Regions from separate parts of the Homo sapiens genome. Here all the other regions are reported to be linked to region 1. Evidence: microRNA targets listed by miRTarBase, many of them from high-throughput screens and not tested one by one. Region 1 holds a microRNA gene; each other region holds the end of a gene's coding sequence.
Evidence for each region. The annotated mature microRNA hsa-miR-3127-3p reads UCCCCUUCUGCAGGCCUGCUGG and lies in region 1 at 2,785-2,806, opposite strand. An mRNA with a match to its seed (bases 2 to 7 or 8) in the 3' UTR can be bound and repressed. Matches are read on the target gene's strand: a 7mer-m8 pairs with bases 2 to 8, a 7mer-A1 pairs with bases 2 to 7 and ends in A, and an 8mer does both.

Region 1 (4,077 bases):
AGCCAGCAGAGCAGGGAGTTCCGCTTGCCAGGCGGACACCCGACCTGGACTGAAGGCACTGGAGCAAAAGAGAAGGTCAGTGATGGGCGCAGTCAGGAGACAGGACACGGAACCACAGGCACAGGACAGAGGCAGACCTGACGGGGCCAGGCTGCTTTGGGCAGAGATGGGCCCAGTGGAGAAAGGGACATGGCTCTGCTGGGAAGGGTGCTCAGGGCACAGCGGTGAGCCCTGTGCGGAGACAGGCAGAAGCTGGCTGAGTGTGCCCAGTCATCTCCCCTCTCTTCTGGCCACACCAAGTGGGAACAGAGAGACTATGGGTCAACGGACAGAGCCTGGGCCCTAACCGGGCCTCTGAGGCTTCACTGCACAAACAGTGCCTGGGGGAAGCCTCCCGTGCCTGCCCGCCCTTCTGAATGAGATTTCCTCAAACTGAACAGAGAACAGCTGCTCTTGGAGGCACAGGAAGTCATCCCCAGGCCTGAGGCATCTGATAGGGTTAACCTGCTCAGAGCCCCGCTCTGGGGCCCTGTCTGTCCCCTGCCCAGGGAGCCTGCCATGCCCCACTCATCTGGTGGAGGGGCCGAGGACATGGTGGATAAGCCAAGCTGGGTGTCAGTATTCATGGGTGCCCTACCCCCGTTCCCCCTCGGGGTCCTTTTTGTCAAAGGACAGTGAGAGGCACAGCACAGAGGTTCTCTGGGAGCTGCAGCTCGTACCCCACTGGCGTGGCCTGTTCTCCAGCACCAAAGTGGACTTTCTCTCTCTACCCTGCAGCAACCTCGCCCCAGGACCGAAGCCTGGAGAGGAGCGAGGAGATGAGCTGGCGAGACCTGGGCCTGCGGGGCCTTGTCTGTGGGGCTCTGCGGGGAAAGCCTGAGCCACTCAGCACAGGAGAGGGCACTGGGGCGGCCAGAGTGGCGCATCCCCGGACCTTCCATAACACCTCTCGGAGGGTGCCCAGTCTCCCTTCTGTCTGTCCCCAAGGCCCTTTATTCCATCGGAGCTGACCTCTAACCAAAACCCAGTAGCCGCGTCCTCCGAAAAGCCAAACCCATCTGCAGCCTGCCCTGGCAAACAGGCCCTGGCCTGGCTCCTGACCCCAGTCACTTTGGATGCTCAGACTCCCCTCCTGTCCTCAGGAGCAGGGCCCTGGGCCTTCCTCCCCACAGGCCTCCTCTCCAAGCAGGCTGGTCTCCTCACAACCTCTGGACATGCCCTCCGCTGCCTCCAGGCCTTTACTCTAAAATCCCTCACTCCTCTTTTCCCCTCCAGCTTCTGGACCCCATCCAAAGTGGCAGCTCCCTCTGCTCTTCCACACCACCCGCTCCAGGCCCTGGCGGCTCCCGCCTCACCAGCCTCCCTCTGCCCCAGCCAGCTGGCTATGAGCTCTCGGGCCCATGCTCAGTTCTGGTGTCGGTCCATGGCTCCCCAGCTGCAGGGGGGCCAAAGGGCAGCAAAGACCATGCCCAACAACTCACCGGAGGGGACCGAGGTCAGGGCCATAGTCCCATAGTAGGAGAAGGCGCCCGTCTCAAACTTCATGTTCTCCTTCCCTGCCTCCACCTCCACCTTCCCCTGAAAAAACACAGGGCTGGAGTTAGAGACCAAGTGAGGGAGGAAACAAAGGATGAGGCAGGATGGGGAGTGAGGAACAAGGGACAGTGGGGCAGGAGGAAGGGCCGGTACTGGAGCCCTGGAGAGCTCAGGGGCCTGACCTGTGAGATCAAGAGTGGCCTCTCAGGGAGAGGATGGCCACGTGGGGCAGGCGGGGCTCAAGGGCAGGCAGCAGGCTCCCCAGGCAGGGAAGCCATGCACCTCCGCAGCAGGTGGGAGAGAGGGCCTGGGGGTTGCTGCAGTGCCAGGGGGAGCAGGTGGCAGGCCCAGGGCTGAGCGGGCTCACCTGCAGGATGAGGATGAAGTAGTCGGCCGGCTTATTTCGGGTGTACAGGTAATGGCGGGCGTAGTACTTATTGTGCTCGTCAAACTTGAGTTCCTGAATGACATCTGGGTACTTGAGTAGCCGCAGCAGGATCTTCTCTGATATCAGGGAGGGGCTAAACTGAGAGACCTCTGTAGGAGGAGAGAGAAGAGACCTCACACGGGGCTGGCCAGGTGGCCCTAAAGCTCGATCACTGCTGTGCCTCCACCCCAACCACAGCAGCCACGCTGTGCTCAGACGACTCCCGCCCTGCTCGGCCGGCCCTCGTTCTGCACCTCCCTGGGGAGGGAGCACGCTTGGCTTCTGACTGGTTGGATACAAGGCTGCCTGCCTGCCTGGGCTTGAACAGTGGCTCCTGCAAGAACAGCACATGACCTTGGGCAAATTACTTAACCTGCATCTCAGTTTCCTCATCTGTAATATGGGGGTAAAAGCTTCACAGGGTGGTTGTGAGGGTGAATGGGATAGCACATGGACAGCACTTAGTATATATGTGCTGTCCATATATACTAAAATATATAGACTATAATTATTGCATCAGCATCAATATCCCACAGGAAAAATAATGGAGAGGGAATTGCCACCCCTTTAGCAAGTAAGGGGTGGGAAGGAAGATGAATTGGGCCAGGGGAAGAGGGGGACAGAGCGGGCAGAGCAGAACCTGTCACCCAAGTCCCCAGTGGAGCTTTGAATCAGGGCTGAAAAGAGAGAAATGTCTCTGAACTAGAAGTGAATTCCTGCGGGAACCAGCACACGTCTGCAAAGGGGAGAGCTGGAGAGTAAGAGCAGAGCTGGATGCAAGCTCCTCAGAGTGGGTGAGCACACGAGGGGTCCAGCCACACCCAGCAGGCCTGCAGAAGGGGAAGCGTCCCTTCTCCTTCCCATTCCACAAGCCCTGATGGGCCTGGCCAGCCTAGGGGCCCACCTCAGTGGTTATTTTCTTTTTTGTTATTTTTGAGACAGAATCTTGTTCTGTGGCCCAGGCTGAGTGCAGTGGTGCATTCACAACTTACTGCAGCTTCAAACTCCTGGGCTCAAGCGGTCCTCCCACATCAGCCTCCTGAGTAGCTGGGACCACAGACATGCAACTGTCCCACCTCATAGCCTCCCAAGTAGCTGGGACTACAGGAGGGCACCACCATGCCTGGCTTTTGTATTTTTTGTAGAGATGGGGTCTCGCCATGTTGCTCAGGCTGGTCTCGAACTCCTGGGCTCATGCAATCCTCCTGCCTCGGCCTCCCAAAGTGCTGGGATTACAGGTATAAGCCATAGTGCCTAGTCATTATTTCCCAAACTATTAAATATAGTAACTTGGATGCTTCCTAGAAGTTTGCAGTAGCCGCCCATTAATGGCAAATGAATCGCAGGGAGATCCCCAGGGGTGGAGCAGATACCCGGCCCCTTCCAGGGGTGGCTGTGTTGTCTCTGCACCCCTCACCTGCTGCAGCCCTCGTCCTATGGGGGGAAAGCAGCCGGAAACCCAGGACTTCTCCCCCGTGACCGTATTTCCACCAAGACCGGAAGGTCCTCCTCATGCTACCTGTGGCTAGGAAGCGATGAGCGGCCAGGAGGAGCTGCGGGGAGATTTTCACTTTGAGCTCATTGTCCGCATCCTTGAAGGCAGAGAAGTCACGCTTGTTCTTCTCAGACACCCGCTTCCGGCTTCGGTTGTCAGCTGCCGGAAGAAGAGCGTGGAATTGAGAACACAGACCCCTGAGGACTTAGGAAGAGACTGGAACCCGCCCCGCAGCTCCTGCTCTCCAGCCCCTAGTCCCACGCAGGAGCAGCAGGCTCTGGCTGGCAGGGTCCTGGGCTGACGCCGAGGCACAAAGGCCGAGGGTGAAGGCAGCCTCCGGGCACTGCTCTCAGCAACCTGCTCCCTGCTCACCCCGGCCAGTGCAGGGCACCCAGCCACTGGGCCTCTGGATGCTAGGCCTCCTGTGTCCCTGCACTATGGCCCTTCCAGCTAGGGACACCAAGTTTCGATCCAAGCAGGAAAGGGGTCCTGGGCCCTGTGGAAGGCTGGACTCACTGTACATGTCGGACTCGTCCAGGATCTCCGACTTGATGATCTCCTCGATCACGTCCTCCAGGGTGACCAGGCCCAGGACCTCGTAGAAGGGGTCACCCTCACC
Region 2 (4,077 bases), not on the chromosome of region 1:
ATTTTAATGCATTCCCTCAACTCTTCTCCCCTCCTTCTGACCCATTTCCAACACCCTTCCCAATTCTGGACCTGTGTTCCTTGCAGGAACAAACAGTAGGATGTTTTGTTTTATTTTCAGTAAAGAACCACATAATGTTTACAACTGTAAGGATCTTTCTAGACAAGGCAATCGATTAAGCCAATATCTTCAGAAAAGTCCAATTTATATGAGCTAAAACAAATCCAAGGGCACCTAGGGATTTGCTGAAATGGAAAAAATACAAACTCGCAAGTCTCTGATCTTAATTCAGTGTTTCAGTAGATCAGGGGATGTGGTCACTTTATTCACAAACTTTCCTAAGAACTCTGAACATTCTGTTCTTTTTACATAAGTTAAAGGCAAAAAAATCAAGAGTCTTGACATAGACCATCCATTCCGTTTCCTGGCCTTTGTACACACTGCTTCTTCAGCCAGGACCTCCCCACAAAAACGTCAACAACCCCTCCCCAAGCCCTGGGTCCTACCCAATCTTCCTGACACTATTCACATGCCATCTCCTCTGGGAAACCTTGACTGCCAAGCCGGTGAAGCATCCCCCCACACTCCCCCACCATATACACCCAGTGACCAGCACCTAACACCTATTTCGATTGTCTATTTCTCTCTCACCTAATTTGTAGTTGGAACTTATGTAGTAATTACCTTTTTTAACCTAATTTGTATCTGAAATTTAAGCAGTAATACTTATTTCTAAAAAATGTGCCTTTGAGCTTTTAAACTTGGCAGTTTACTTGACAATCTCAAGAATGGTAAAAAAATAATGGGCTTTGGGCTTTGGCATTGAACTAATGTGGATCTGGCATCCAGCTCTAGTACTAATGCCTCCATGACCTTGAACTTAACATCTCTGAGACTGTTTTATCATTTGGAAAATAAAGGCCTACTTCACTATGAGAGTTAAAGCATAAAAGTGCGAAGTACACCACCTGTTCGAGTTTGTGTTCAATAAGTGTTAGCTACAGTTACATTTCTCAAGAATTCAATTTCATCAAAAGGAGAGCTTCAACCACAAGGAGAGAAAGAATATTGCCAATTGAGAACTACCCAAAACTTATTTCATAATGATATGCAACTTTACCTACATTGAGAATAATCTGTAATTTATACTTAATATGTTATCTGCTATCCACTTATTCAACAACAAAGCACATCTAAAATGGTTTGAAAATGTATCTGACTCCTTTAAAATATTCTAATAAAAACCCAGAGATTTGAAAAAATCAAAAAGAATGCCAGCATCATCTAAGGGAGTATCTTTTACACCAGGAAATTAATAGTACAGTAAATTTCACTGATAAAGACTCCACTTGAATCTCTAGATTGGTAACTTTAGTTCATCCAAATCTGTAAGCATCAAATTTAAAATGGTTTAGAAAGTATTTTGAAATTATTTACTTAATAAATTGGCTTCTGAGCCAGCAAAGAATCCACTAATCCAGTCGCGTAATTAAACCCTCCTTTTAAGACCCTTAGAAAGGAACCAAGACGCCTAGATGATTGCTGCCAAATTTAACTTGGGAAGACCTGCAGACAATGCTCCCTAACAAAGACTCTCTGATGAACTTTTCAACCCTGGATCACTCAGAATCCCAAGAGGAAACATGTCCCATTTCCTTGTATTTTTTCTTTTTTCTTTTTTTTTGAGATGGAATCTCGCTCTGTTGCCCAGGCTTGAGTGCAGTGGCACGATCTCAGCTCACTGCAACCTCTACCTCCCAGGTTCATGTGATTCTCCTGCCTCGGCCTCCCGAGTAGCTGGGACTACAGGCTCCCACCACAACACCTGGCTGATTTTTGTATTTTAAGTAGAGATGGGGTTTCACCATGTTGGCCAGGCTGGTCTTGAACTCGTGACCTCAGGTGATCCACCCGCCTCAGCCTCCCAAAGTGTTGGGATGACAGGCATGAGCCACCACGCCCGGCCCCATTTCCTTGTATTTTCATTTGAAGATAAGCTGAATGGCTCTCGAAAGCCACAGAATTAAAGAAGGGGATCTACTTTCAACATCAGTACCAACTAAGAGTCTACTAGCATATACAACCACATTGCACATTCATTCAACTATATATTTATTAATCTCTACTTGCTCTCAATCAGAAGCCATTCTAGGTGTGTGGTGGGGGTGATGTCAAGATGAATGAACAATGCATTCTTGTGCTCCAAAAGCTCTCAGTTTGAATTTGCAAAAATGTAACATTTTAAGCCACTCACAATTTAAGTAGGCACTAATTCATAGCTGATACCAAAGACTTAAATGAGAGAGCCGAATGGGGCAGGAGACAAGACTACTGAAAATACAGGAAAAAGGAAACTGGCATAATCCTGGTCCTGAGAGTGAGATTCATTTAGAGTCAGATCGACCGATTACCAGCAATGTAAAAAATTTGGGTTTTTCCAATTGGGATGCATTTTCTAAAAGTTTTATATTATTATTAATTATTATTCGTTTGTCTTTGAGACAGGGTCTTGCTCTGTTACCCAGGATGGAGTACACTCATGCCTCACTGCAGCCTCACCCTCCTGGGCTCAAGTAATCCTCCCACCTCAGCCTTCCTAGTAGCTGGGCGTGCACCACCACACCTGGCTAGTTTATGTATTTTTGGTCGAGATGGGGTTTTGGATGTTGCCCAGGCTGGTCTCAAACAATTTAAAAGTTTAATGAACAAAAATGTGCCTCATTTCACAGGTTTTTAGGAAAACCAAATGAGAACACTGATGCAAGTATACAGCACAGTGCTCATCACTGGGAAGCACAATGTATAGCGCAGAATGTACAGTATAAAGTGTAGCAACCCTTTAATGGATGTTCAATACAATACCGTTCATATCACTTATACAAACTTTCTCAGTACAATTTTGTTCACGATCATGATAATGCTGAATGACAGAGTGAGGAAGTGGGATTAACAAAAAAGTAAAAGCTTCCAGACCAGCCAGAGCTAAAGTCAAATTAAGGCTCTGCTCTTGCCAGCCACTCCAACCTTAAAGAAGTTATGTTATTATCATGGATAAATTTTTACACAAGATTGTAAAAATTAAACGTTAAGGATAAAAGCCCACAACACGTGACTGATATTCCTCAAATATTAATTTCACTATTTGTGACCCCTAAATAAATGCATCTTCCAGGTGTTCTGAACACCTAGGTTATAGCTGCTCAGCATGTAAGCCCCTATGATAACTTGAGCCCTTTCCCCTTTCCTTCCCCAGTGGTGAAGGGAGAATGACATTCCTTCTCCCTGCCCACTGGCTCAAGTGTGGCTTATGGCCTATGCACAGCTACACCAATATTCCCTGTTGGAGCTCCAGCTTCCAGGGACAGCACAGCAGACACTGTCTGGGCCAGGGGTGCCAATGGCAGTGCCTCTGCCAGAATCTCAGCAGTCTTGGCACCCTAGTCCCACGGCAACTTCTCAATTTTGTGAGCTACTTGACATCCCATTCAATAAATTCATTTTCTCCTTAACAGTCATTTCCTGTTGTTCCTAAATAAGAATCCTAACTTTTATAAAACTAATAGACTAGAATTAACATCAATGCCATGAAATTATTTTAATATGTTTTTCTCCATGACTGAATATACAAATATAATGGAAGTAATGTATTCTTCTGCTGTAAAGATGGGTGGAATATATCAAAATCCACTCGCTGAATTTTCTTTAGAAAGTCCTCTAGAGAAACCTGGAAAAAAGAGAATAGTGATCACCAGATCATAAAATGATCAAGACTTAAAAAAAAAAAAAACTAACTAAAGAATAATTACAAGTATTTAGGCTATTTTAGTTTCCCTGAGATGGTTTTCTATTTAAGTGAGAATTTTAAAAGAGAGAAAGAAAAAGACATCCAAGAAGTTTCTATTAGACCAGTAAAAGGGTATCACAGAGCTAGTACCAGAAAAGCCAAGCCTCTTCTGCTCATAATATAAAAAGCTTTGGTTAAGACAAAAGGATTAGCAAAATCACGTTTGCCTGGCCTTATTACTAGATTTGGTGGAATGCAAACAGGCTGTTTCAATCAGGGAAAATGAAACATCC
Region 3 (4,077 bases), not on the chromosome of region 1:
AGGGAAGTAGCAGAAACATAGCCAGTTTTGTTGCTAAGGAATTTCTCTAGATATGTGGTCATTCCTTTTTATTATCAGTTCACCGGTGACAAGGATGGGAGTATCCACTGAGTTTCTGATGGATTTTTAAGATGGTATTCGCCTACTACAAAAAAGGCATGATTTTTTTTTTACCTGCCATTGTAAGATTGCTAGTGTTTTTGGATGAAAGGCACCTGAGAATCATAAGTATTAGAGATTTGGGCAATGTTCTCCACAGGTGTATTCAGTATTGTCGCCTAGTATTAATTATGTGTTCATTATGCATTTGTACCAATGTACCTTAATGGAATTTAAAAAAGAAGTCTTTGAAGTGACTTTTTATCTATCACTAGCCAAAATGATCGTCTCAACTCTTCCTAATCAGAAGAGTCACTGGTCAAATACCACAAAATTGGAATCTTAATCATTTTTAAGCCTAAGCCAGTGGCTCACTTATTGGAACAAGGATCATACTACAGAAGGATTTGAACAGCTCTTAAAGTTAGAAAATAGAGAATTTGATCCACAAAACATTTTGGGGTGGATATGCCAAAAACTAAACCAAACTGATTTAGAAATTTTTATTTTGACAGAAGCGATCCAAGCAGCGGAAGTTACAGCAGAAGGCCTTCCGCAAGAGGCAGCTGAAGGAGCAGAGGCAGGCCCGGAAGGAGAGGCTCAGTGGGCTCTTCCTTAACGAAGAGGTGCTGTCCTTGAAAGTGACTGAGGAAGACCATGAAGCAGATGTTGATGTTTTGATGTAATAAGGGTGAATTTATCAACGTTCTTTGTGAGCATTAAAATACTCCATCCTTATGGGTTTACATGCATCTTGACCAAAATTTTGGTTAGGGCTGTGCTGATGTACCATTAATAATTTAAGCCAGTGGTTCTTGGCAGGTGATCCCAAGACCTGCAGCTTCAGCATCACTTGAGAAGTTGTTAGGAATGCATACTAGTGGGCCCCGCCCCCAGACATAGTGAATCAGAAACCAACAGGGAGGCGCCTAGCATTGTTTTTTTAACAAGTGCTGGGTTATTCTGATGCACAGTCTAGTTTAAGAACCACTACTTTGGGTAAACGTTTTGACTGTTTAAAGTTTATGGCGGTGAAGTGGGCGTCTTCAAAGACTAGTACTTACACAGTTTAGAAGATTTCAAGGTACTGCTGACAGTAGTTTATTATGTCAGTATACATACATGTGTAGAGATCATAATTTAGTTCCCTTCTTAATGTTACAATTTCTTAGTTTACTTTTCCTAAAGGGCCATAGCATAATTCTTGATTCCTGGTGGAAATCTTTTCTGAGGTGTGGGGGTGGGCAAGGTGTGGATTGCTGTTTACGATAGTGCCTTCATTAGTTTTAGTTCTGTCTGTTTTCATTCATTATTGACTCAAAGGTATTAGAACAGGCCCTTATCTTTTTCCTATTAGATTTATTTTTGTTTTTTACTTTATGTAAGTTCAGAATCCTTTTTTAAGTGATGACTACTGATGAAATAATGTTACTAGTAGCTGAATTTTAGACTTGATGCTATGTTGATTAATATTTAAATGGTGAAAGTAATTAGGCAAAATAAGCAATTCTGCTTTTCTGTTGCTTTCAGAATTTTTAGGCTGTAAAATTGTCTCAGGCAGGAAGTCAGTCTATATCTCTCTCAAGTTCTTATTGTAGGTCATTTTTTTTTCAGCACAGCTCTAATTTTTAAATATTTGGTATAACAGCTTCTGGCATGTGACCTAGTTAATGTTGAAAATTAACTGATGAAAACCCTTGTAGATCTGCTAAACTTCTCTATAAATTGCTAGAAATATACAGAGCAATGAGATATAGAAAACACCTTAGCTTGTTGGTTATTAATAGAGCTCTAATTTTAACTGTGAAATCATGGAGTTTCTTTAAATGTTTTCCTAGAGTGTTTGTTATCATGAACATTAGAAATAGCATTATTCCTTTTCTTCTACCACATGTCTTGAACATTCACATGGGTTAAAGAAGATGGAAACTGATACTACTGACAATCAAGCTGCTTTCTGACTTTCATAATTTTCTTTATATTGTGGATAGCATTTTGAAGGTGACCGTGATTCTGTAGGAAGAGCTGTAATCAATATTTTTCAAACTCTAAGAGTACAGAGGTTAGTAAGATTTCTTTTTTTTTTACTTTTTGTTACGTCAAGTAGCTTATTAAGAAAAAGATTCATGACTTAAATTCTTAATTCTCAGTTGATACAAAGGCTTATAATCATGTGTTTTAAAATTTTGATTTCATTTTCGTTCCTTGAAGGTTAAAGAATGGAAACTGGGGATAAAAATTAATACACTGCAGCTTTGCCAAGGTCTGTGATATGGTTGTAACCTTTTAAAGACTACTAAAGTCATAATTTGAAATTTTTACTAAAATAAAACATATGTGTCTATGGTTTTCAATTGGAGTAGTCTTTCTTACTTTCCCCCTTCCCCTCTTTGGTTCTCCTAACCAGCTTAGAGGACCCAAAGAGAGCTTAGGGATAGACACCAGAATACTCTGTGGAGGTGGAACAACTTAACCTCACTGTTTTCCCTTCCAAGTATAGGAAGAGCAAATAGAGCATAGTAACTGTATCTAAATTCTCTACCTGCTCTTAGCAAAAGCAAAATCCCACAGAATGATTGCCTGCTGTCTTTACCTATTCTTCAAGGAAAACAGGCCACTTTTGGAGACCATAGAGCACCATTTATCTGTCAAATACTTGGAAACTATTTACTTAACGGTCATCAGTAAAAAACCCTAAACAAGGTCATGATATAATTTAAGACCAATTCCCCTACTCTCCCAATAATCACATAGTCTTATTACTTTCAATTTAACTTGAGTCACTATTAAGCAAGTTTACCAAAGTGCCACAAAGTTGATTTTTAACGTTTGTAAAGGTTTGAATGTTTATAGAAGTGCATCATGAAATTTTGTGTAAATCCAGATGAACTGTCATTATAGTACTATAAATTAGAGATAGTCCATAAAGTTGGGTTGAAGGAGATTGAAAATATTTCCTTTGATTAAAAGAAAATAATTAACTAACTTGGGCTTGCTTGTGATTGAAGAGGGAGATTAGATAGTCCTCTGTCCCCCCAAAAAAGAAACTAGCAGAGAAAGACATAAAAAGCTCTTTGGTGTCTGTTCATGTGCTGTACATTTTTTCCGTTTTAATGTCTTGTGTAGATAATTCAAAGTTTGAACTATTTCTTTCTTGGAATAAGTAATAATTTATTCAATATGGTGTATCTCTGAGTTCAATTTAAAACAATCCAACTCAGTAATATTTATTTTTAAATACAAATCCTAACTAACCAATTAATTAATAAAAAGGCAAGACTTACTTGCTGTAGTATTGGTTCTCATCTGTAGAGAACTGACATTGGAGCAAATTTTAAGTCTCCCCTTTGAAAATAAGCCTTGTTAACTGAGGGCGTAATACATTTCCCACAGATTTATCCAGAAACATTTTATTAGAGATCTTATAGTAGTATCTCAGTTCCTACTACAGCTTTCTAAAGGATGAGACTTGCATTTAACAAAATGACATATATAATATTTTTCTATAGTTTTGCAACTGAATTAAAGGAAGGTGATGTATTATAATGTGTAGTGAGGTATAAAGGGCTAGTTCATTCTCTCCCAACAAGAACTTAGAATAAAATAACACTTTTTTTTCATGAGACTTACCTCATTTTTGTTAGGCTATGGCAGTTTTGTCCAGTTCCTCTGTCCCTTGAGTGAATTAGATATTGGTGAATTAATCTCAGAAACTGACCTATAAAATAATGACTCATTATAGATTGGGTGAACTTCTCATTTTATTTAGCTTTTAAAAGTGCTAAATCCTCTCATAAAGGAAAAATTATAGGAAACTATAGCGGTATCCAGATTCTGATGAGCTTTAAAAATTATAAAATATAGCAAATGTCTTCATATTTTAGCCAGAAATATTAGTACACAACCAATATAGAAGTCTTGTTTGTTTCTGGGTTCTCCAGCAGAGACTTTTTGTTTGTGGCTTACTCTGTATAGCCT
Region 4 (4,000 bases), not on the chromosome of region 1:
TTGAGTGCTGAACTCTTTAGATCTTCCTTTCTCACAAAGAAAAAAAAAAAGAAAAAAGCCTCTCCTTATTGCTTTTTATTCTGTCATTAATTTACTTTTCAAAAGACACCTTGTCAAGCTGAAGATTATATCTTTAAACCATGTATTTACACCCACTACCTATAAAACCTTAGATTATAGATCTTCTTAAAAGACCTAAGGGAAAATGCATTGGATGAGTTTTATGCTTTTTGCTTTGTGAGAGCCAGTCATTCTTGAAGAGGGAAAGCTGCTGATGTAATAAAGGGTTGCTATGCTTGAAACTGCCACTGTATTTTAATTTGTAAAGCTTTTGGGGATGTAGCATCCTCAGAGGAGTGGGACAGATGCTGGCTTGGGTTCTCTGGCTCAGAAGACAGGAAGACAGCATTGCTCAGCTGGTGGTTTTGGCTCACAGATGATCCAGGCAATTACTTAATCTCAAAGTTCTCATCTTTTGCCCAGATTACTACACTTACCTCCTGATGAGCCTCCCTGCCTCTGGTTTCCTCCCCTCCCTTGTGCCCCACACACTATTCTCCAAATCCCTCCACCAGCAGACAAGAGCAAAGGGTGGGTGGAGGAAATGGAAGCGTGTGTTTGATGTGACGCATTCAAACCCTGGCCTGCTCTGTGACCCATGAGGCTCAACCTTGCTGAGATTCAGTTTCTTGGCTGCACAATAGGACATAGAAAACAAACCTTAAGAGATCTTGCATAAGACTAGTTAAAATAGCACAAATAACTTTACTGTCCCTGCCTTTTTGTTTTGTCACAGACCCCATTCCCCATGCAGGTATAATGATTCCTCCACTCTCAGGAGCCTCAACCTTGGCTGCACTTGGAATCACCTGAGGAACTTTTAAAACTAAGGATGTCAGGCCGGGCGCAGTGGCTCAAGTCTGTAATCCCAGCACTTTGGGAGGCCGAGGTGGGTGGATCACCTGAGGTCAGGAGTTCGAGACTAGCCTGACCAATATGGCGAAACCTCATCTCTACTAAAAATACAAAAATTAGCTGGGCATGGTGGCGTGCACCTATAGTCCCAGCTACTGAGGAGGCTGAGTCAGGAGAATCACTTGAACCCCAAAGGCAGAGGTTGCAGTGAGCCAAGATTGTGTCATTGCACTCCAGCCTGGAGACTCTGTCTCAAAACAAACAGACAAACAAAAAAACCCCAAAAAACTATGGATGTCTGGTCCCTACACCCAGTGATTAAGATTTAATTTGTTTCGGGTGCAGTCTGTAGACATCAGGGTTTTGAAAACTGCTCAGGTGATTGTAACATACAACCAAGTTTAAGAACCACTGTTTTTTTAGGTCAAGATCAAACGTTCTCTTTAAAGTGCCCACGTGGCCTGGCATATTTGGCCCTTGGTCACTTTCTAGCATGTAACTGCCACTACTCAGTAAATAATGAATGTAGGTTAATTATTAATGTAAGTTAAAAAGTAAAAAGCAAATTAATGACAGGATGAAAAGCAATAGGAGAGTTTTTTTTCTTCTTTCAGGTAGAAGATCTAAAGAGTTCAGAAATTAACTTCTAAATCACATTCTTTAATTAATAATAGTCTTAATAATGATGACGATAAGCATGAGGGTAATAATGTCCTGTATGACAGGCATAGTGCCAAGTGTTTTATATGCCTTATTTTATTTACATGCATTATTTTCCTCACTCCCCTTTCCTGACACATACGCACCTGCATGCACCCCCAAATGTCTTTCTCACTTTCAGACTTTGTCTCATGCCGAATTTCTGTCTGAGAGATCTCCTCCCAGTTTGCCTAGTTGAAAAGTCCTTCAGGGCCTGGGGCAATCCCCATGCCATCCACAATATACACAGTAATGGAAAGGTAAATCTCTCTCCCACCTGGCCTCCTTCAGCACTTACTTTGTGTGCTACATATTTTAGCATTAACTCAACAATTAATTTCCCTAAAACCTCCTCTAGTTGTTTCAGGTACATAATTCTTATTCTGACTTTAACAAGATTGAGGACTCTGGAATGACTTGAAGCATCAATATATATGTTAGTCACCAGACATTTCTTGAGTACCTACTATACACTAGGATTGTAGATTTGGCCTTCAAGGAGCTCAAAATCTAATAGGGGAAACTGATGGATAAACAGAAAATTCAGTGCTACCTAACATGTTCTCTATTTGAGGCATGACTGGAGGGCTGTGGGATTCTGAGGCTGGCTGGTGTGATTGGCCTCCCCTAGAGATGGGTCAGAGAAGGCGGATTGATCGTCACTAGTTGGCCTCTTCAAATCCACTCTCCACTCTGGGAGGCTGACCAATGTGTACCTCATCTATGAACTGACTCTTCAATTCATTCACTTATTTAATCACAGCTACTTACTAAGTCCCTGCTACATTTAAGGCACAAGCCTGACCTCCGGGGCTACAGTGCTAAACAAAAGAAGCCTGACTTCTGCCCTCAAGATTATTATCTCTTAGGAAGAGATAGGTCTTACATAGTCACAGGAGATGTGGGATTAAATATATATGCTATGATCTGAACATTTGTGTCCCTTCAAAATTCATATGTTGAAATTCTAACCCCAAAGTGATGGCATGAGGAGGTGGGAAATTTGGGAAGTGACTAGGTCACGAGAATGGAGCCCTAATGAATGGGATTAGTGCCCTTAAAGAAGGGACCTAAGAGACTGCCTAGCCCCTTCTGCCATGTAAGGACACAGCAGTAAGACAGTCCTGTAAAAACTAAGAAGTGGGCCCTCACCAGACACTGAATCTGCCTTGATATTGGACTTCCCAGCCTCCAGAACTGTGAGAAATAAATTTCTGTTGTTGATAAGCCACCTAGTTTATGGCTTTTTGTTATAGCAGCCCAAATAGACTAAGATAATATAATTACTAGTTGTGAAAATTGCAATGTAGGAAAAGAAGTGTTCCATGAGAAAATAATCAGGAGAAATGTCACATTTGTGGTAAGAACTTAAGGGAACTAGAGAGATTAATTGAATTAATAAACGAGTTCAAATGAAGGCAAATTGAAATAACTCAAGTCAATTTTTAGTATTTTTCTCATTGTTTCAGAGTGTCTGCTTACCCTACCAATTAATAATGTTTCTATGAGTGAACAAATTGTTATCAAAGAACTAAGAGAATTTTCATCCTACTTTGTTTTATTGGGCGTTGATTGTTTCAGGTGTCTGCTTGTTTTGTCTCTAACATCCTGTAAGTTCTCCCTGGTCATGGATTGAGTTTTCTCAGTTTTCTATTTTACTTTATTTTTTTGATGATCCAAAGTGCTGTAAGTAGGACAGAGCTTCTAGTTAACAGTCAACATCCAGTTGCTGAATAAAATGATTGAGTTTTGTAACTAATAGAATAGTTGGCTGTAGACAGCAAAACCTAGTCTTAGGCCTGGAAGCTGGCAGAACAAAGAAAAAAGTGTGCTGATTTGCATCTTCTCTTAGTTGAAAGAAGTCTTTATCCAATAGTCAGTGCAGGGGTCGACATCCACAGCATCTGGTCCAGCCTGTGTCCAGAGGCCCTCAGCAAGCCTGCGTCTGTACTTTCCGCCCTGGACACGAGGCCCCTCCATTCTGAGGTGCTGGATTGTCACACTCTCTTCTCCTTTCCTGGATGCCTGCTCTGCATACAGACCAGGAGCTCCAGCAACTCCAGCTCCCATCTGCTTTGGCTCCTGCAGAGGAAATTTCCCAGGGAGGAGAAGGTTAGCATATGGCTAAGAAGGAAGGGCCTGTCTGGTGATGAACAGGGAGGGGTGTGTGGCACCCTTGGGAGAGGAACTGGCCTCCCCTCCTCTGGTCGACTGCAGCTTGTTGGAGGTACGTACAGATAAGGTACATAGGGTCTTTGCTCCTTTGTTAGTCCAGATGTAGCAAGGGCAGTTTCACTGCAGAGACCATGGCAGTCAGGCTATTAATTGCCCCTGGGGGCTCTGTCCAGGGAGTTGCAGAGCTGCTACTGAGGAGGGAAGGCCATCC
Region 5 (4,077 bases), not on the chromosome of region 1:
TTTTAAAAGAAGATGTGGAGAAAGAGGCAGGCAGATTCGATCCAATGCCAGCTTTGTGAGGAAAGGGTTTACGATGCTGTCCAAGAGAACTTTTTTTATTTTTTGAGACAGAGTCTCGCACTGTCGTCCGGGTTGGAGTTCAGTGGTGCGATCTCGGCTCACTGCAACCTCCGCCTCCCTGGTTCACGCGATTCTCCTGCCTCAGCCTCCCTAGTAGCCGGGATTACAGGCGCACACCACCAGACCCGGCTACTTTTTTGTATTTTTAGTAGAGACAGGGTTTCACTATGTTGGCCAGCCTGGTCTCGAACTCCTGACCTCGTGATCCGCTCGCCCTGGTCTCCCAAAGTACTGGGATTACAGGCATGCGCCACCGCGCCCGGTCCCAACAGAACTTTTCTACAGTGATGGAAATGGACTAAATCTACACTATCTAATATGGTAGCCATCAACCACATGCAGCTCTCGAGCACTTTGAAATGCAGGTGGTACAAGTAAGGAACTTTTTATTTTAATGAAATTAAATAGCCACATGTGAGGTGATGCTTTTATATTAGACAGTGCAGGAGACCTTAATCCCTACTGGTAAGAGTAATAGGAGGGATCAGGACTAGGTTTGTCCTCTTCCAGCCACACATTGGCATCATGTTTTCTGCACTGACCATTCACACATATTTGAGCAAAAAAAACTCCAGCAGTGATCCCACACTTGTTTTAATTACAATAGAATAAGTTAACCAAGAAACAAGTTGGAAAATGGAAGGCCCCTCCCAGGTTTGCACCCAGAGGCAGGGAGAGGTAGACCCTCACCAGAAAGACCTCCAGTAATAACACAGATAGCCACCTACTATTTTGGTTTTTTTTTTTTTTTTTTTGAGATGGAGTTTCGCTCTTGTCGCCCAGGGTGGAGTGAAATGGCGCGATCTCGGCTCACTGCAACCTCCGCCTCCCAGGTTCAAGCGATTATCCTGCCTCAGCCTCCCTAGTAATTGGGATTACAGGCGCCCACCATCACACCCAGCTAATTTATTTTTAGTAGAGATGGGGTTTCACCACGTTGGCCAGGCTGGTCTCAAACTCCTGACCTCAGGTGATCCACCCGCTTTGGTCTCCCAAAGTGCTGGGATTACAGGCGTGAGCCACTGCACCCAGCCACCACCCCACTATTTCTTAAGGACTTATTATGTGTGAAGAACTGTAGTAAGCTTTGCATATATTACCTCGTTTAATTTTCATCTCAACTCTATGAAGCACACTTAGCCACTCTTCATAAATGAGAAATGGTGGCTCTGAGAAGTTAAGTGACCGCCCAAGGCCACACAGCTAAGTGGAGGAGCTATTAACCACTATCACTACTGTCCCCAGGCCTTGAGATTATTGATAAACTAGAAAACTTTAGATGTTTCTAAGTCTACCCCAGACCTCATGAAAATGGCAGCAGGAAGGTAGGCTCATGTAATGAGTATCCCAGGTCAGATGTGCAAAAAGACTTAATTTTAACATAAGGAGAGACAGTGGTGACCTACCAGAAGAACCTCCTAAGCCAGTGAGATTGTTGTTTGGAGTATGTTTCTTCTAGCAGCCCTTATTTCTTTTTAGATTCTGGATCAGAAAAGCAAAAGCAGCTGTCAGGACTTTTGAAAATCAGCATGACAAGCCATATCCCCAACTGTAAGCCTGGAGCCAGGCACTGACAAAGTCACAGCTAAAAATCACATCTAGGTTTTGTCAATCCTTCCCAAGTAAGTACATTGATAGGGTACCTCGGGCTCCCCCAGTTGTCAGAAGAGGTCTGTACCTTCTCTGTGAAGATCTACCATTCAAATAACCCTTACACATCCTTGGAGGAGGTATTAGACTAGTTAGGCAATCAGGCTGGTGGGAGGGTGGGGATCAAGAAAAGCAGAGGCAAACAGGACCAAACTTTCCTAGCTGAAATATCAATTCATTGAGGCGGTAGGCCCATAAAAGCAGAACCAATAGCCTTTGACACCTAAAAAAAAGTAGCACACCACCAAAGGTGTAAAAAGTACAAAAAGATTAAAGGTATGAAAACAGCAAAGAACGGCCATTTTAATGGAAGACACTGGGGACATGGAGGGCCAGGGGACTGATATGCACCGGAGGCATTATTTCTTACTTTACTCAACACTCTTGGGAAGTCAAAGTCTTCACAACACTTTAGTCTCTGCCTCTACACTCCTTCTCAATTCTTACATCATTAGGAATGAGGGGCTTCCTTTCTTCTCCTGAAACCCCATCATCTTTGAATCCAAGCAAATGCCGAGGCCCCAGGAAGACAGCTAGGTCAGCATGTTGCAGTTGGCCACTAGAGGGTGGTGTTTCTGTAATTAAGGGGATCTTGAAAGGCTACAAAACTTGGATGGGAGTGGCAGCCAACTGGACTTAGTATATGAGGAACCCAGCAGAATAGAAAGGTGGGAAAGGCAAGTAGTAAATCTTAGGATAATGGTCCTTAATAAGTGAGGAATAAGGAATAGGAACAAGGTAGGAGGAAAGATATCCCACCAAAGACCACAGCCATCACTCCTTGGAAAAAGAGATCTTGGCTCTGAGCTCTCACTAGATACATAGAAGTCAACAATAAAATAAGGCCGGGGGCAGTGGCTCACGCCTGTAATCCCAGCACTTTGGGAGGCTGAGGTGGGTGGATCACTTAAGGTCAGGAGTTCGAGACCATCCTGGCCTAGGTGAAACCTCATCTCTACTAAAAATAAAAAAGTTAGCTAGGCATGGTGGCGGGTGCCTGCAGAAGACTGAGGCAGGAGAACTGCTTGAACCTGGGAGGCGGAGGTTGCAGCGAGCCAAGATTGCAGCACTGCACCACTCCAGCCTGGGCAACAGAGTGAAACTCCGTCTCACACACACACACGAAAAAGAAGTCAACAACAAAAGATTTCTCAATTTATTTGCATATATACATTGTCACCCCAGGGAGCCAGCTCTATTTCAGAAGTCCCCGGCTCCCCTTACCCAGCCAACACCCAAAACCCACCCAAGAGGATGGGTCCTGGATAAATAATGCCCAGGACTCATATCCTGACCCCATAGGTTATAACAGAATTCATCAAACAAAAACAGAGGGCTAGAGGCCAGTGTCCATGAGAGGTCCTTGCCCCTTTGTAAACATTGACATCCAGGCCACTGGAGCCTGGGGAAAGTGTGCAAACATGAGGATGCCACACTGTGTGTCCAGGGGCCAGGAACACAGCTGGCAACCATACCCGTGAAGTCCTGAGGATCTGCCCCCCACTGGAACATGGCAAGTGCCGGGGGCAGAAGCAAGGCAGTTACCCCACACCCAAGGGCTCACATGAGATGGCAGCGACGCTCTTGCCCATAGGAATTCTCCACACGGGCAATCTCCTGGATGACTTTGGTGAAGATGCCTTGAGTCAGCTATAAGAGGAGAGGATTCAGGGCAAAAGTCAGTTCAGTGCCAATACCACCCAGCTCTGGGGTGAAAGCCCCATTCCCGCAACATTCCCACCACCAAGCAGTACAATAAGGAAAACACAGCTACCATCACCACCCTTCTAGTCTTCAGGCCCAGCACCTGATTCTCTCGAGCAGATGACTCCATAAATGTCGCACCCCAGGACTCTGCCAGCTTCTTTCCTTCAACTGCCTGTACCTCTCTGGAAGCAAATTTGGGACATAAAGATGGAGGATAGAAATGTCAGTAAGTGCTCTGAAAAATCTTCAGAATCAAGACTTCCTGGCCAGGCACAGTGGCTCATGCCTGTAATGCAGCACTTTGGGAGGCCGAGGTGGTGGATCACTTGAGCTCAGGAGTTCAAGACCAGCCTGGACAACACAGGGAAACACCATCTCTATTAAAAAAAAAATGGGCCACACGCGGTTGCTTGTGCCTGTAATCCCGATACTTTGGGAGGCCTAGGCGGGTGGATCACAAGGTCAGGAGATCGAGACCATCCTGGCTAACATGGTGAAACCCCGTCTCTACTAAAAATACAAAAAATTAGCTGGGCGTGGTGGCACGCGCCTGTAGTCCCAGCTACTTGGGAAGCTGAGGCAGGAGACTCGCTTGAACCC
Region 6 (4,077 bases), not on the chromosome of region 1:
CAATACATCCAAACAAAGAGAGAGAGAACAGGAACACTCACTGTGTGTACAGCCCTGAAATGAGGTGGGCGGGCAGGGGTTGGGTAATGACAGGGAACTTTTGCACATGCTAACAATGGACACAGGGAAAAGTCAAAAAGGACATGGAGGACACCAAGAACACATCTAATTGCCAGAGACAGAAGGGAACCTAAGGCTTGGATTTTCCATGAAGCACCCAACTCCTAAGAGAAGGTCTCCAGGGGAGCAGAGCCTCAGCCTCTCTCCCCACTCCCTGGTCACAACCCAAGGGGAAGCAGAAGATGCTGGCTGGGGTGGGGAAAATTTTTCAGGGAAGAGGACCAGAATTTCTGCTCAATCTTATGGGGATGGCCCTTTGTTCCCAGAAATCCAAGCTCTTAGCTTCCATCCAGGCCCTGGCCACTCAAGGGGAACCCAGGAGACAGTGGTCTGGCTGCATTCAAGGCAAATCAATTTCATGATGTAACCCAAGTAAGAAACAAAACTACAGCAGAAAACACATTGTAAGTGAAACCTTCACACAACAGAAAAGGATTGCTTAAGACTTGACAGCGAGTCTCCACTCTGAGCTGAGCCCTTTCACACGTGAGACTTGTAGGGGAGCAGCTTCTTCACAAAACCATCTTTGGCCTGGGGAAAGAACTGTGCTCAAGGGCAGTGCTACTGCTGTGCTAACTCACTGGGCAGGGGGAGGAGAGAACAGAGAAGTGCATGGTCTCACCAGCTGGCTGCTCAAGCAGCCCAGGACCCTGCTGGGGCGAGCATTCCTTTTAGAAAAGAAAACCCATCAGCAGGTATGAAGCCCTCAGGGTCTGGTATCAAAGGTGGGTGGATTGCACCTTGGCCTCTTATGTCATTAGGAAAGGGGTTTCATAAGGTCCCAGAGCCCAGGACAAATCCATGGACAAATAATGGTGAGATGGGGGAAGGCGGAGAGAAGAAGGGGATGTGGGAAGGGAGTGGCGTTCTGGCTAAGGAGGAAGACAGAACAGAAGGCTAGGGAGCACAGCACCGGCAGCACCCTATGGAGCACAGCTCTCTCCTCTGCCAATTCACAGCATTAACACCTTCCCCTTGGGCAGGTTAGCTGGGCTGCAAACGGGCCACAGAAAGTCAGTAGTTTCAATCATACACAGCACCCTGTGTGTATAACAATCACATTCTGGATTCTACAAAATCCTGGCCTTTTCCAGAGATATAATTTAGGTAATAAATATTCTCCACCCCGGAGCTGTATAAAACTTCTATAAAAATAGAAACGACATTCTTGGTTCCAGCCGGTTGGGATTCAGAACAGCGCCTCCCCAACCTAGCATTTTTTTCTTTTTTTTTTTTGTTTTCTTTTTTCTTTTTTATTTTTATTTTTTGCATTTATTTAAAAAATCCCATCATGACCCTGGAAGCCTTTAGAACAGTTTTATCCTTTGAAACACAGGACACATTTCTCCCAGTGCGCAGAATTTCAAGTTTACGTGGTTCAGCTTAAGAAGTGTATGTTTCACGTTCCTTAGAGGACAACAGACCCAAGTTATCACTATGAGAAAGGAACAGCTGTCCCAGCTTCAATGGGATAATCCAACACCACCAGCTACCTGTACAACAGTAAGATGGTCAATCCCTGTCTGTTACCCACAGGGACAGCATGACAAGGAGAGAGCCCCCATCTGACTTAATAGCAAACCAACCCCTTTATTCTTATCTCTGCTGCTAGGGGTCAAGACTGGTATTTGTTGAGGTTTCAGATTCCAGAGACCCAGGGATCCCATCCCTGGCTGTGGCTACAGTCACATCTTAACAGGGCCACCTCTGCCCAGGTGTACATTCCCAACAGCATGTCCTTCCTGGTTCTCTACCCCCACAGCACTTCTTAGAGCAGAGGCAGAGCCCAGAAGCTGTGTGGGTCACAGGCAAGAGCTGAAGTAAGACCTGCAAGAGGCGGCAGGGAGCTAACTGTAGCACGAGGACAAAAATGAACACGGTAATACTGAGGTAAATGAACACTCAATTCATGTGGAGGCTGTAAACGTCCTGATGTCACCTCTGCCTCAAGAGCAGAAAATGTGACTGGAGTGGTTACAGGAGGGGCCTGCCAGACCCCTGTGGGAATACTACATCTGGGACACCTCAATCAAGGAGGCAAGGGAGAATTTCTGGCCACTGGCAAATGAAGCATACTGGCTTGCAGGGACCTTCTGATTCAAGTACACCAAGAAATAAGCTCCTCCTCCCCCAACTAGATGGTATTGATCACTCTGCCCACAAATGGTACCCCCTTCAGCAAGAACTGCAAGCCCTTCTTGGATTTGCCTTCATGAGAAAATGGTGGCTTGGGATGGAGGTGACATTCCTTGCTGTGGTGAACTGCAAAGAAGGAAACCAGGCAATGTATTCCATAGAGGCCTTTAAAGAGACCCGTTGGAAATGGGCCATGGTCTAATTTGGTGTTGAAATAAACTAACCTCTTTGGCTGTTTCTCCCAAACTGCCACCAGCCAGGCAAGGCCAATCCAATACTGACTGCTGGCTGGGGGAGCTCGTAATGGGTGATGCCGCCCTGCTTTTTGCATATGTCAGGCTAACAGGTGCTTTATTTCCAGAGAATTGTTAATGCCCTTTTTTGAAAAGAGCAGCAGAAATTCCGGACAAGAATCTGAAAAATAGGTGTCAAAAACTATTTCCCAGAAGGTAGCTGTACAGGAGTTTGAGTCTCCAGCTGCCAGGGCATTAGGTGTCTAGTCACTCCACTCTTCCCCAAAGCCGCTCTGCTCCCCACAGCTCCCAGGTGTCAGTTCTCATTCTACCCACCCTCACACTAAGAGAGGTTCTGGGGGTCACTTTTTTGTTCCACTCAGTCCTCTCTCTTGGGGTGGTTTGGGGCAAATCCTGATCATCGTCTGTGTTAAATGTTTCCCTGTCCCCCTTCCCCAGGGTGGTTTGGTGTTGGTCCTTCTCAACACACACTGGTTACAAACACAGCAAACTTTAAATAAAGGAGAAACAAAAACAAAAACAAAAAAAACCTCAGGATATGGCACCTAAACTCCAAAGTAAAACACTGGAAACCAAAGCACAAACTTGTCCTCTGTACGAAGCGAAACTCCCACAGAAGGCAGTAGCCGAGTCTTCAGGGCAAGCTGTGCCTGCGAGAGTGGCAGGGATCAGGGTCCAGGGCTGTCAACACACAGCCTCAGGGCTTCGAATCATTAAGGGTGCTCCTCCCCCACTTACCAGAAGACCCTCTCACTCCAGTCTCAGAGGGGAGCACGCTCAGTAGGGCTTGCTGTCATTCTTCGAACGTTTGAGCTGCACTTTAAGCCGCTTCATGCCAATCTGAAAGCCGTTCATGGACTGGATGGCAGCTTGGGCCGAAACAGGATTGTCGTAACTTACAAAACCTGTGTGTCCAAGCAGAAACCTAGGTGAGGGACATAATGAGGCAAGGAGATTCTCAGTCCTCCTTATGCAAGATACCTTATGTGCTTCATCTCAAATCCCAATTTTATTCAGCAGGGACAAGAAATCTGGACATTATGTCATACGAAATAAATTAGGTTCTTAATAGTACCACTTAACAGCTACATGGTAATTTAAAGGTTTTTTTCTTTTTCTTGAGACAGGGTCTTGCTCTGTCACCCAGGGTGGAGTACAGTGGTGTGACCATGGTTCACTGCAACCTTGGCCTCCTGGGCTCAGGTGATCCTCTCACCTCAGCCTCAAGTAGCTGGGAACACAGGTACACGCCACCACGTCTGACTAATTTTTTGTAGCCATGAGGTCTCACTCTGTTGCTCAGGCTGGTCTCGAACTCCTAGGCTCAAGCGATCCTCCTGCCTTGGCCTCCCCAAGTACTGGGACTTACAGGCACAAACCTGGACTGTTTAAAGGTTTTTTTGCAAACCATTTTCCATATATTATTTTTCTCTCTGGAGCAACAGTGTGGGTAGAAATCCTTACCTCCACTACAGCAATGAGAAACTGGGGCTCAAAAAGAGGTCATAATGACCTGCCCATGGCCAAGTTAAAACAACACCACAAACTCATATTCAGATCTTTCTGC
Region 7 (4,077 bases), not on the chromosome of region 1:
TGGCGGGGGCTTGGAGCTGCTGAGAGCCGAGAGGCGCAGAGCGCAAGCTGGCAGGCTGGGCTGCTATCCCGGCGCGCAGATGCCCCGCCGCCAGTCGAGCGCGAACATCTCTCCGGAACATCGATCTATCACCTCCCTTTAAGGACCCGGACCGGGAAATTTCCATTTTCTGTTTTGGGAATAAGAAATAAAAGCGACCAAGCTCTTGCCCTAATTTCCCCCCGCGGGCCCTTCCACGCGGGCTGGCGGGATCAGAAGGACGGGTCCGAGCTCGGGGGCGCGGGGTTCCTGTGAACTCCGGGCTTGCTCGGTCCGGTCCCCGCGCCTGCTGTCCCCAGGCCCTCTCGGGAGGCAGACCGCGGCAGCGCAAAGGGGCTTCGAGGATCTCTGAGCAACGACGGCTGAGTGACCTCTTTCCCTCTCAAGCACACCTTCAAGGAGCCGGTGGACCCTCTCACCGCCGGTAGCTGCAGGCTGAGGGCGGCGCCAGGCCAGGCTGGACTGTGACCCTGGGTGGCGGGGTGGCAGCACATAGACGCTTTGACTGGGCGTTTATTGCAAAAGAAGCGGGAACTCCCTTCTCCTGAGAGAGGGACAATGAGCAAGGACTAAAGAGAATTCAAGTGGAAAAATCAGTGAATACAAGAAAGACCCACTGCTGGAGCCAAGAGGTTTACATTAAGCTCTGCATGGTTCTTTCCTTTTCCAGGAATAGGCATTATTATTTTTTTTTTCTTCAAGTGTTTGAAAAAATTTTCCTTCTTGACGTATTACTTAACAAACCCATTCCGGTTGGATGTTAGATGGTATTAATTATCTCCTGCAACACTAAGGAAACTGTCCAAATAATGTACCTGTTTGCCCTTCCCCCAAATCATTTAGACGGGTATAGCTATTTCTTTTTAGACAAAATTGTTTCACTTAAAAAATTCTGCAAGAGTTGTTAGGCCTTTGACTAAATCCATTTTCTTAAAAAATAATCCTTAAAAAGAGTTAATACCACATAAGATGTGGCATCCTTTAATAGACAGATGCTTGGGTGTTCATCCTAATAGTTATACCCATCAATGAACAATTATTAAGTCATTTCAAGCACTTTGCAATTAGTTCAATTTGAAGTTAGTTTGGAGGAAAAACTTAAAAATCACTTTTCATTATTTTTCAGTTACTTTATGAATTTTTTCATACATCTTTTTTATGGATCAAAGGTTGGTCTCCGATTTTCTCATAAGGATGCAAGTAGCTCCACTACCTGCCTGACTGCTATTGCCTTTGCTTTGGAAGCCACTGTGGGTGAAGAGTAGGGAACAAGCTTTTAGGACTCTCCTGGGTGTAGAAGGGAAGTAGCAGAGAACATAAAAATCTGGAAAGAACCTCAAAGGGGCTGACCAGCCAAGGAGGCCAATGGGCAGGTTAAACAGGCCAGGTCAGCAGCAAGAACCTCCAGGCCGCAAATACTTTCCCCTGCAGCATCTGCTTTTCTTCTTTATTTCTGAATTCTGTCAGCTGTCATTTCTTAGAGTAAATAAACTTTTCTTTAACAAAGGCCGACTTTTAATACATTTGAGGTCATCAGTTAGTTACACTTCAGGACAAAAGGGATGCATTATTTGGAGATGATCTGTATCAAGGAAATGGACATTTTATTGAAAGGAAAAGAAGGGTGGGTAATTACTAAGTACAGAGCAATGTGTCGTGGAACAGCAAGCTTGGGGATGGTGCCATTGGAGAGTTTGGGATAGCATGACTGGACATTTGAGGGTTTGGAGAAAATAGTATTTGGTGTGTGAATAGAGAAGAAAAGGAGGGAGAACATTCCCAAACTGCCTTTCAAAGATAGTGAGTTGGTAGAGTTAGTCTTTAATCCCGGAAGAAGGAAGAAATTTCCTTGTTTGTTATCTTAGCCCTAGGGCCCAGAAAATGAGCCAAAACAATGCTAAATAGTAACTGTAGATTAAATAGATTTTTAAGGCTAGTCTAGGTACCTAACGACCACTTATTACACCATGGGAGAACGAATCTGGAGGTCCAAGTTGTTTCATTTCTAAAGTTTCAGAATAAACGTTTTCATAAATGCAGGGATACCTCCACTTATTCTGCATTAACTGCCTTCATTTAAAAATTACTTATTAATAAATGCAGTAGCACAATCTGCCAATATGTTTTGGGAAATATCACAAAAATAATTCATAGAGAACTTACGCAACATAATACAATTATCTCTCAAACCCTAGCAAGAAAATATTTTGAGAGAACCACTAATAATGTGAATTACTAGTTAATATTACTAACATTACTAATTATTAGTTAACATTGATTACTAATATTAACTAATAATATATGAAATATATATTTCCTCTGCTATGGAAATATGCTGTCATAGTAATTCTTTTAACAATGTATGTGCCTATTAGGTACAAAGAACAGTCAGTGTTACTATCTTTTACTCATTTGATTAAAAACAAAATATTACAAACAAAACAAACAAAAAACTCAAGAAACAAAAACACAGAGTCAGATAGTTGGGATGTTTGAAACACTGCAAACCTCTTTTACTGCATTTGCTCTATATAAGTCTAATAAATACAGAAGTAGTTATGAGCAAATAGATTTTTATTGCCTGCAAGCTGTTATACTGGAGCAGGAGAATATGGTATCTTGACGGAAGCACACTTGCTACCCCACACCTGGGGATTACTTATAGTTGAAAGAAGAAATGTTGAGAATGGAACAAAGACACAAACCCATTGGATAATCTAGTCTATATTTGGGTTTGGCAATCCTTTCATCCCAGGAATATACCTGTAGACCAATTCAAAGTACTAAGAACCAAGATTAAAGATTTTATACACATCACAATAATAGCAAATTAAGTACAAAACGAACCTGGCACATAAATTATAATTTGTAAGGTACACACCATTTTAACAAGGATACGACAGTGTTGGTGCAGTGGTCCGAACTGACTTCTCACAATGCTGCATTATGAGAAATATGTATCTCGCTTTACACAGAAAACATCATTTTGATGTGATTACAGAAAAATGCTCAAATCTTCTTTAAAAAAAAAAGTTCATGTTCTGATCACAAGCAGAGCCAAGGTTCATTTTTAGGTCAAACTACACAAAAGAGGATGCTCTTCTCCAAAAAAACAAACAAACAAACAAACAAAAAAAGGAAACAAAAAAACCCCAAAATCTTGGCATTTCCCCTTTTACTCTACATTCAGGCTTACTTTTTAAAGAAATACAAGCATTTTTATTTGGCCAAAACAAACAATGAATGTAATTACAAGGACAAGGTTAAAAAAATAAAAAACAATGTCGATCAAGGTCTTCCTTCCTTCTGCAAAGCTGTGTGATATCAGCCTTCTTCTTCTTCGTCACTGTCTTTCATAGTAATGCCCTGAAGTCCTCCTCCTTCTGAAACAGAGGCTGTGGCCTCCTCTACTGTTAAACGTCTGTGCACAGTATCATAAGTCTTACTGTTCAGTGTTCCTTCCAACACACCCTGCAATCGAAAGTCCCTGTAGGTTTTCTGAAGAAAGAAGATAAAATTTGCTTAGCTCACTTAGATTATATGCGTGTACATAGATATATACTCAGTTGGCATTTCAAAAATGATCTTGGGGAATCCACTGATAGGTTCATGTGGCTGTCCATGCCAATCATCTTCTTGGTGTATTTCTGGGGAGTAAATGGAATGACAGACTCTGGCTATTGCTTCAAACTACAATTACTATGACTACATCAAAATGTTGTTACTATCAGATGACAAATTCACTTTCCCCTCAGAACATTACTAATTGCACACAATTTACCTTTTGAACAACCTGTAGCAAAAATAAAATATGTACCTGTGTAAGTTTTTAATAAGAAATTATTAGTTTTTTTAATTGAGGGGGCTTTCCTTTAATACTGAAAAATACATTATATTTTATAAAATGCATTAATTTTGAGGGGTCAGTTGTGTGGAGGAAGAAGATTAATCCTATTATCGGTAAAAGAAGTTCACATTTTCAGCATTTCAGTGAATTATAAAATTTATTTACATGTACCACTGGATAAAAATTTGTGT

Region 2: miRTarBase lists NDUFAF6 as a target of hsa-miR-3127-3p. Seed matches in the 3' UTR shown: 7mer-A1 at 3,236-3,242.
Region 3: the mRNA of FAM199X is a reported target of hsa-miR-3127-3p. The part of its 3' UTR that is shown has no 7-base or 8-base seed match.
Region 4: miRTarBase lists C8A as a target of hsa-miR-3127-3p. The part of its 3' UTR that is shown has no 7-base or 8-base seed match.
Region 5: the mRNA of RHEBL1 is a reported target of hsa-miR-3127-3p. Seed matches in the 3' UTR shown: 7mer-A1 at 2,986-2,992.
Region 6: the mRNA of CELF1 is a reported target of hsa-miR-3127-3p. Seed matches in the 3' UTR shown: 7mer-m8 at 2,937-2,943, 7mer-m8 at 2,291-2,297 and 7mer-A1 at 1,091-1,097.
Region 7: miRTarBase lists CADPS2 as a target of hsa-miR-3127-3p. Seed matches in the 3' UTR shown: 7mer-A1 at 3,208-3,214.

What each region holds. Positions count from the first base shown.
Region 1 is chr2:96,797,053-96,801,129 of GRCh38, reverse strand. It overlaps MIR3127 (microRNA 3127), which reads right to left and starts at 2,852; the gene lies at 2,777-2,852. CNNM4 (cyclin and CBS domain divalent metal cation transport mediator 4) reads right to left here. Exons shown (of 7, transcript NM_020184.4): 2 at 3,975-4,077; 3 at 3,483-3,617; 4 at 1,904-2,073; 5 at 1,482-1,578. RefSeq lists an enhancer at 90-419.
Region 2 is chr8:95,057,456-95,061,532 of GRCh38, reverse strand. It overlaps NDUFAF6 (NADH:ubiquinone oxidoreductase complex assembly factor 6), which reads right to left. Exons shown (of 9, transcript NM_152416.4): 9 at 2,823-3,724. The coding sequence ends at 3,596. Among named protein-coding and RNA genes, the nearest start is that of MIR3150A, 13 kb to the left of the region's middle.
Region 3 is chrX:104,188,994-104,193,070 of GRCh38, forward strand. It overlaps FAM199X (family with sequence similarity 199, X-linked), which reads left to right. Exons shown (of 6, transcript NM_207318.4): 6 at 615-4,077. The coding sequence ends at 785. Among named protein-coding and RNA genes, the nearest start is that of FAM199X, 25 kb to the left of the region's middle.
Region 4 is chr1:56,917,261-56,921,260 of GRCh38, reverse strand. It overlaps C8A (complement C8 alpha chain), which reads right to left. Exons shown (of 11, transcript NM_000562.3): 11 at 3,038-3,696. The coding sequence ends at 3,545. Among named protein-coding and RNA genes, the nearest start is that of C8B, 47 kb to the left of the region's middle.
Region 5 is chr12:49,061,773-49,065,849 of GRCh38, forward strand. RHEBL1 (RHEB like 1) reads right to left here. Exons shown (of 8, transcript NM_144593.3): 7 at 3,578-3,659; 8 at 2,904-3,420. The coding sequence ends at 3,331. Among named protein-coding and RNA genes, the nearest start is that of KMT2D, 3.0 kb to the left of the region's middle.
Region 6 is chr11:47,468,943-47,473,019 of GRCh38, forward strand. It overlaps CELF1 (CUGBP Elav-like family member 1), which reads right to left. Exons shown (of 15, transcript NM_001376376.1): 15 at 1-3,415. The coding sequence ends at 3,288. Among named protein-coding and RNA genes, the nearest start is that of RAPSN, 22 kb to the left of the region's middle.
Region 7 is chr7:122,316,802-122,320,878 of GRCh38, forward strand. It overlaps CADPS2 (calcium dependent secretion activator 2), which reads right to left. Exons shown (of 30, transcript NM_017954.11): 30 at 1,610-3,537. The coding sequence ends at 3,364. Among named protein-coding and RNA genes, the nearest start is that of FEZF1, 14 kb to the left of the region's middle. RefSeq lists an enhancer at 75-929.